Linked DNA regions of Homo sapiens. The protein of the gene in region 1 purifies or fractionates together with the protein of each later gene. This does not show direct contact. Each region holds a gene or a part of one and is shown on either strand. Other genes may lie near its edges.

Region 1 (3,500 bases):
AAAATGGTCGCTAGTTGAGTGATTACTTGATTAATGACTGTCTCTCTCTAGATCATAAGCTACAAGAAGGAAGCGACAGATGCCTATTCTGTTCATTCTATATCCCCAGTCCTTGCACAATGCCTGATTTACAATGGCATTTGATAAATATTTTTAAATGATTGAATGTAACTTATCTGAGCCTCAGTTTCCTCCCCTGTAAAGTGAGATAGCAACTGAAGATGACATTGTGAGGCTCAAGTGAGATAACACTAATAGCAACGCATATTATAAGCTCTTTATTATATATGATTTTATTTGCCCATAAAAGTGTTTTTTAAGCCTAAAAGTAGCATGCATGTATAGGGAGTTGTTTTTGCTCTCTGTTCAATACCTCAGCCAAAGGATTTAGAGGTTAATTTGAGAAACACAACACTGTGGGAGGTGGCAATAGGTCATGAGCCTGCAAATGTACACGAGGAAAGCAAGCCTTGCGGTGTCTCTTTTCTCCTCTCCCCTTTCCCCTCTCCCCCTCCTTCTGCCCTCTCTCTTCTCCTGTCTTCCTTTTCCCTTCTCTTCACTCCCCTGTCCCCTCTCCCCTCTGGTGAGTTCATTTCGTTACCCATTGGAAAAAGCCTAATCAAATGTGCCTTTGTTAGCAGTTTACAAAGCGAATGCTGAATGTGGTTTGTGTGCCTTGAATTTGTAATGGAATTAGAGGGCAGCCAGAGGACTGTGAATCTCCTTATGGGTGGAAACCATTCTGTTTAGTAAACTTGAAGCTTTTGTCAGTTGAAACCTCTGAGAAAATAAAGCTGAAGTGGGTGAGGCCAGTGTTCTTTGCCCATACTTTATTCACTGTTTGGATCACCTGTTTCAGCTCTCCAGGCAGTGACTTCTTATATAATTGTTTTTCATAGGGCAGTCCAGATGAAAAGAGTACCAATGAATCTGCCTCCAGCTGAATAAACCATGGAGAGGAAAAACCCATCCAGAGAGAGCCCCAGAAGACTCTCTGCCAAAGTAGGCAAAGGCACAGAGATGAAGAAAGTGGCTCGTCAGCTTGGGATGGCTGCTGCTGAGTCAGACAAGGACTCTGGCTTTTCAGGTTAAAAATATCTTATCCTTCCTCTGTTTTGTGAGTGAATGCTTTGCGTGAAAAATTTCCTCCCCAAAACTCATTTATGTGATAAGGATGGGATGCTTTCACACACAGGATAAATACTTACCTGCTTTAAAATGGTAATTCTGATGCCATATGTCAGGGTACCCATCAAAGTCACCACAGGGTTAGTTCTGAAAGAATTATTTAACATCTTTTTTCAACTTAGACTCTGAATCTTACACTTCCAACTATTGCAATTGGTCACTGGAAAAAATATTTAAATACTCATAATTCTGTTGTTTTACTTCCTTTTTCACAGGAATTATTACATTGTAGGGGAAAAATTGCTACTGCATGTAGTTTCCATGTAACAAATTGGAAGACTGCCAGTTAAATAAAAGTAATACTGTATATAATTTGTAAGGTAACTTTTTCATTGAGAAAGTAGTTTCGCTGTGTTTAGAAATGTACGCCTCCAACAACCCCTCCCCCCAGTCTCTATGCATTTTGTATTTGGACTGTGAGCCACCTGGCCTAGCTCTAAACTTGAGTATCTATTAGAGATAAGAAAATAGAACAGTTTTCCTTACAAGTTTTTCTTAAACCTTACCCAAAAGGGCTAGCTGCATATATATTGAATCATTCAATTTTGTGCTGGGGCTCTTTTTTTATTTCCCGCTCTGAGGGTAGTGGCTTGAATATGGCGCTAGTGTGATTTTTGGCGCGGGGATGCAGAGGGGTGATGCTGAGGGATTCTGGTCAAGTCAACATCCTGAGAGTAGAACCCTCTCAAGGAGAAGATTTATATTATCCAGACTCACAAAGACAAATCAATCAATTTTGATTTATTAACTTATAGTGAGAAATGCAGCTGTTAGGAAAACTAGAACTCTCTTGTCTTTAGATTGGCATATTTTCTCCCTGTAGGCATGCTGCTTGAAAAGGCAAATTATAAATAGACCGTTGCTCAAAGAGGAACAGAGCGCCAACCAAGGGATTAGATTAAAAGGAATTAGTTGCCCTGCCCAGGGCCAGGACAGTCCAGGGAAGGGCGGGCCAACCTTCCCTTTGGATTTTTCTTCTCTCTCTCAGCATTGTTTCCTAAGCCTGCCTCATCATAAGGCTCACCTGAGGCATTTGTTAAAAATATTGATCACCAGATCTCCCTCCTGGAGACTCTTTCAAGGGTCTGGACAGGGCCTGGAATGTGGGTTCTTTTAAAAAACAAGTGTTTCTGTTGTATGATCAGACAGGTTTGGGAAACACTGGAGGCCTAGTGCCTCTTTTTTTCTTTTAATATCACGTTTGCTTTTTGTTTATGTTTCATTTCATGAATACGTGCTCATTGTAAAAGCTTGGACAGGTAGGAAAGCATGAAGAAGAAAAACATTATCCATAATCTTACCATCTATTATTTCCAGTACTGTTGACATTTTGACACTTCTAACAACTTCAACTTTGTCAGGCCAGTTGTTTTAAGAATATTGTACTACTCAGATATAAGGTGGTATTAAAATAATCAAACTCATTATGCCCCAGAAAGTAGCCCCAGTGAATGCCACTGGAATGCTTCGAGCCACTCTTGGGCCAGGTGCCAGTGATTTCCTCACTGCCTGAGTTATTCCAGTTACCTTGGAGTAGGATGAAATTTGCAAAATCAAGACAATTTTTCCCATTTTAATTACCACATTTGTAGTTCAAAAAATTTCAAATCTATACAAAAGCAAATGAATACCCCATATGTCTATCTTTTTGCCATATATGCTTTCTCTCTCTCGCTCTCTTTACACACACACACACACACACACACACACACACTCTCTCTCTGAATTATTTGAAAGTAAATTGCAAACACTTGACATTTTACCCCATGTAGCTTCAGTACAGATTTCCTAAAAACAAGGACATTCTTCTATGTAGTTATAATATCATTATCATACCTAAGAAATTTAACACTGATACTTATCATTAGCTACACTCCATATTCAGATTTTCCCCCATTGTCCCAATAATGTCCTTTATAGCTGTTTGTCTTTTTGTCTGTTTTGGATCCAGAATCCAACTGAAGATTGAGCATTGCATTTAGTTGTCCTGTCCTTTAGTCTGGTTTAGTTTATAACCACTCCCCTATCTTTTCTTTCCTTTTTTTCTTTCTTCTTTCTTTATGACATTGACATCTTTGAATGAGTCAGGCCTGTTGCTTTGTAGAATGTCTCACACTCTGGATTTTCTGGTAGTGTCCCCATTATTAGGGTCAGGATTAGCATCTTGACCAGAATACTATGTTGTTGATGTTGTATCCTTCCCATTGCAACACATTTGGAGACTCATAAGTTAGTCTTACTCTTGGTGATGCTCTGGTTGGTTGATCACTTGGCTAAGATAGTGTGTACAGATTTCTTTACCATTAAAGTAC
Region 2 (3,500 bases), on another chromosome or scaffold:
CTCAGTGATGCCTGTCCTTGCGCCCACATGAGAATTAATCATCCGTTCTCTATGCCTGGCACTATTTCTATGGCTGTACCTATTACTATGCAGGGTGCTGTCTGTCTCATTTCTCTGACTATATGCTAAGAGCCTCAAAGGCAAGGCCCAAATGCCATTCATATTTTTCTCCTAAGGTCACTTAAAAAAGCCAAGGCTAGACTATAAAGAACAACAGATACCAAAGTCTGCATTTTACTTTTAGGAACAAGCGGTGTGCTGTAATGAAAGAGATGACTTGAAGGAGATTATCTGGTGGTATTTTTTTCCAGGGATTAACGTGGACAGCTTGGGAGCAAGACATTAGGCCACACTGATACTGTTCTTACTATGTGCTAGGAACTGTTCTGCCTGCTTTATATACATTAACACTTTCAATCCTCACAACAACCCAAAGAAATAGGTACTCTTCCATAAATGAGAAAACTGAGACAGAGAGAGGTTAAGTAACTTGCTCAAGGTCACACAGCTAGTGAATGGTGGAGCCGGAATGAGCCCAGTAATCTCCCTTGTGTTCTCATTCTTTTTTTTTTTTTTTTTTTTTCTGAGACAGAGTCTTGCTCTGTTACCCAGGCTGGAGTGCAGTCAGTGGTACAATCTCAGCTTACTGCAACCCCCACCTCCTGGATTCAAGAAACTCTCCTGCCTCAGCCTCCCAAGTAGCTTGGATTACAGGCACGCACCACCACACCTGTCTAATTTTTGTATTATTAGTAGAGACGGGGTTTTGCCATGTTGGCCAGGTTGGTTGCAAACCCCTGACCTCAAGAGATCCACCTGCCTCAGCCTCCCGAAGTGCTGGGATTACAGATGTGAGCCACTGCGCCCAGCCAGAGTCCTCATTCTCTCATTCTTAACTGTAGGAGTGTACAGCCTCCCACAGGACTAAAGTAGATGACAGCTACTGGGGCCTTGCACAGAAGTGTGTGCAGTAGCAGGAAGCTGGGGGCAGAGGGAGCGATGTGGATGGTGGTTCCACTACTGCAAAAGAAGAAAGCCAGGTGGGGGAGCCAACCTAAGGAGGAACACTTTGGTTGAAGAAACACCATATTTATAGTTGACGTTTTCTTACTTTTATGAGGCTGCCTGTGTGCAATTCAGGTAAATAGAGCCCATTTGTTCTGGGAGAACAAATCAAACTTAGCCCTTTAAACTCAGGAGCATACAACTGGGATTTTCTAGATTCTGAAAGAAAAAAGAAAAGTCTAAAAATCAGAAAGAATCCAGTCTAAATAGCTCTTCTTTTCAATAAATTTGGACATTGAGATTTTTTTCTTCTTTTTATGTAAAAGACCAAAGAACATAAATAATTCCATTTAGCCAAAGATAGCTCTGGTGCCCCAGAAAGAGGACAGAGAAGTAGGACTGGAAAGGCTGAGCCCATCACACACACCCGCCCTCTGCTCACTCAGGGTTGGCTGCCTGTGAGTGGGCTGCTGAGGAAATGCGAGGCCTCTCTGGTACTCACTTTTTGCATCTATGAGCCGCTCCCGGGGTGCGGTGTCAGAGGAGGAGAGCTGCTCCTTGACTTTGGCAATATCTTTAGGATGCAGGTAGTCAAACAAACTCTGACCAATCAGATCATTCTGGGGAGATGAAATGTTAAACATGACAAGTCAATTGCATGCAGAAAATCAATTATGCAACAAGTAAGCATGCACAGTCTGCATGTTGCCTTTGTGTTTTTGTGCATGAGACCTCAAACTTTTCCTATGTGAACCTGTACATATGTCCAACCACTTTGCCTGACACCAGGAAGGAGGCATCTGGAGGTTGGTTTTGATAACATGACGGGAAAACCCTCAATTATATAAACAGTTTATGCTCTTCTAAGGCAACAATCTTGGAATTCCCCTGTAAGACCTCAGAAGGCAGAAGATAGGGGTGGGCTCTGATTCCAGCTCTGCTGTTCAGCCTCTCTGTTCTCAAGCAAGTCACGCATATCATATGCTTCAGTCACCTTGTCTATTAACAGAGATAACAGCAACTTCCTCCATAACTTTGCTCTGAGACTAAAAAGAGCAGAAATCTTTGGAAAAATTAAATTTACATTAATTCTAATTTACATAAATGTCATTTTGATTCTTCAAGTCTTCTGCCTACCAAGCTTCCATGCAAATACCAGTGTGTGAGTGAATGAATAAATGAATAAAAACTCTGGGGGACATAATAGGTGAAAAGTTCTGTTCTAGAAGCGTTTATAAATGTTACTCTTATTTGATCCTATAAGTTATCATTAATTTTTAGAGTAAACTGAGGTTCAATAGAGCTAAGAAGTGACACAGCACTGCAAACACAGTATGGAGTGGATTTCCAAGTGACGTATTCTCTGGTATTGTGTTAACCTGCCTACCTTTCTCCCTTGTCAGATAGCCTCTTACCCTCTGTCCTTGCCACATATTGTGGGATATTTATTTTGCAGCAATAGAAGAAAGCCATAATGCTATCGATCAGATCAGAGTCAGATCTTTCAATGGGGGGAATACGGAACATATTACAAGATTGTTCTAAGTCTAAATTAATTTATCTGTTAAGAAGTTAAGAATTTTCTGGAAGAAGTTCACATGTGACTTGTATACTATAATTATTCTGACAAAATTGAGTGACACTTCTGACTGCTGTGAGGCTGCCCACCATCAACAGGAGCATGAACAATACCTGGCTGTAGTTGAGGATCTTGAAGACAGACTCTGAGACAAAGAGTATCTTCCCTCGGTCACATCCTACGACAAACAAAAATCCATCTGCTGCCTAATCAGGAGAAATGGATAATCAATTTCTCATACTGTAGGAAACATAATTTGTAATCACCCTGATAACAAATAGAGGATGTGCTTTCTAAGCATCCAAAGCACAGGAACACTAACAGTTTCAGTGATATCCTGAGTGCAGGATGCTGAAAACAAACGTCTCTGAAGAACTGTAAGATTGTGTGTGTGTGTGTGTGTGTGTGTGTGTGTGTGTGTGTTTCTGCATATCATCTAATTATTATAGGAAGAAAGTCCAATTAAAGTAAGTTATATTTCAAAGCAGAATTCAGCTTGCACGTGTTCTTTTGAAGGTATCATGGTCCAGAGAATCATATTTCATTGCTCTAATAATAACAACTCTATGGAGAGTCAGAGAATCTGAGATTTGGAAGGACTCTTCAAGAATCCCCTCTCCAACATCTCAGCCATCATCTGCCTTCAACTTGAAAACCTCCACGTACAGGGAGCTCTCTAAAACAGTGGTTCTCAACATTCGGAGCAGTGTTTTTTGTTTTTGTTTTTATGCTGATGGTCTGGCATGGGGCTGATCACTGGGGTATTTTTAAACCCATCCCACTTCCACGTTAATGTGATTCTAATGTACATAGGGCTGAGAACTACTACTCTCAAATGTTATCCCTCCATCCAGGGCCGGACTATTTGCATTCAGAAAAGCAAAACTCCCCGCTTAGATTCTTCTTACCCCTTCTT

Evidence for each region. The genes of interacting proteins can lie anywhere in the genome.
Region 2: the proteins of CIPC (region 1) and BMAL1 purify together in Homo sapiens (affinity purification with mass spectrometry; one large-scale study listed by BioGRID and IntAct). This does not show direct contact.

Annotation. Positions count from the first base shown.
Region 1 is NC_000014.9:77,104,758-77,108,257, forward strand, and holds part of CIPC (CLOCK-interacting pacemaker), read left to right. Parts: intron 1-899; 5' UTR 900-951; coding exon 952-1,087; intron 1,088-3,500.
Region 2 is NC_000011.10:13,364,790-13,368,289, reverse strand, and holds part of BMAL1 (basic helix-loop-helix ARNT-like protein 1), read right to left. Parts: intron 2,791-3,500; coding exon 2,698-2,790; intron 1,626-2,697; coding exon 1,508-1,625; intron 1,225-1,507; coding exon of another isoform or gene 1,112-1,224; intron 1-1,111. UniProt on the Homo sapiens protein: Transcriptional activator which forms a core component of the circadian clock.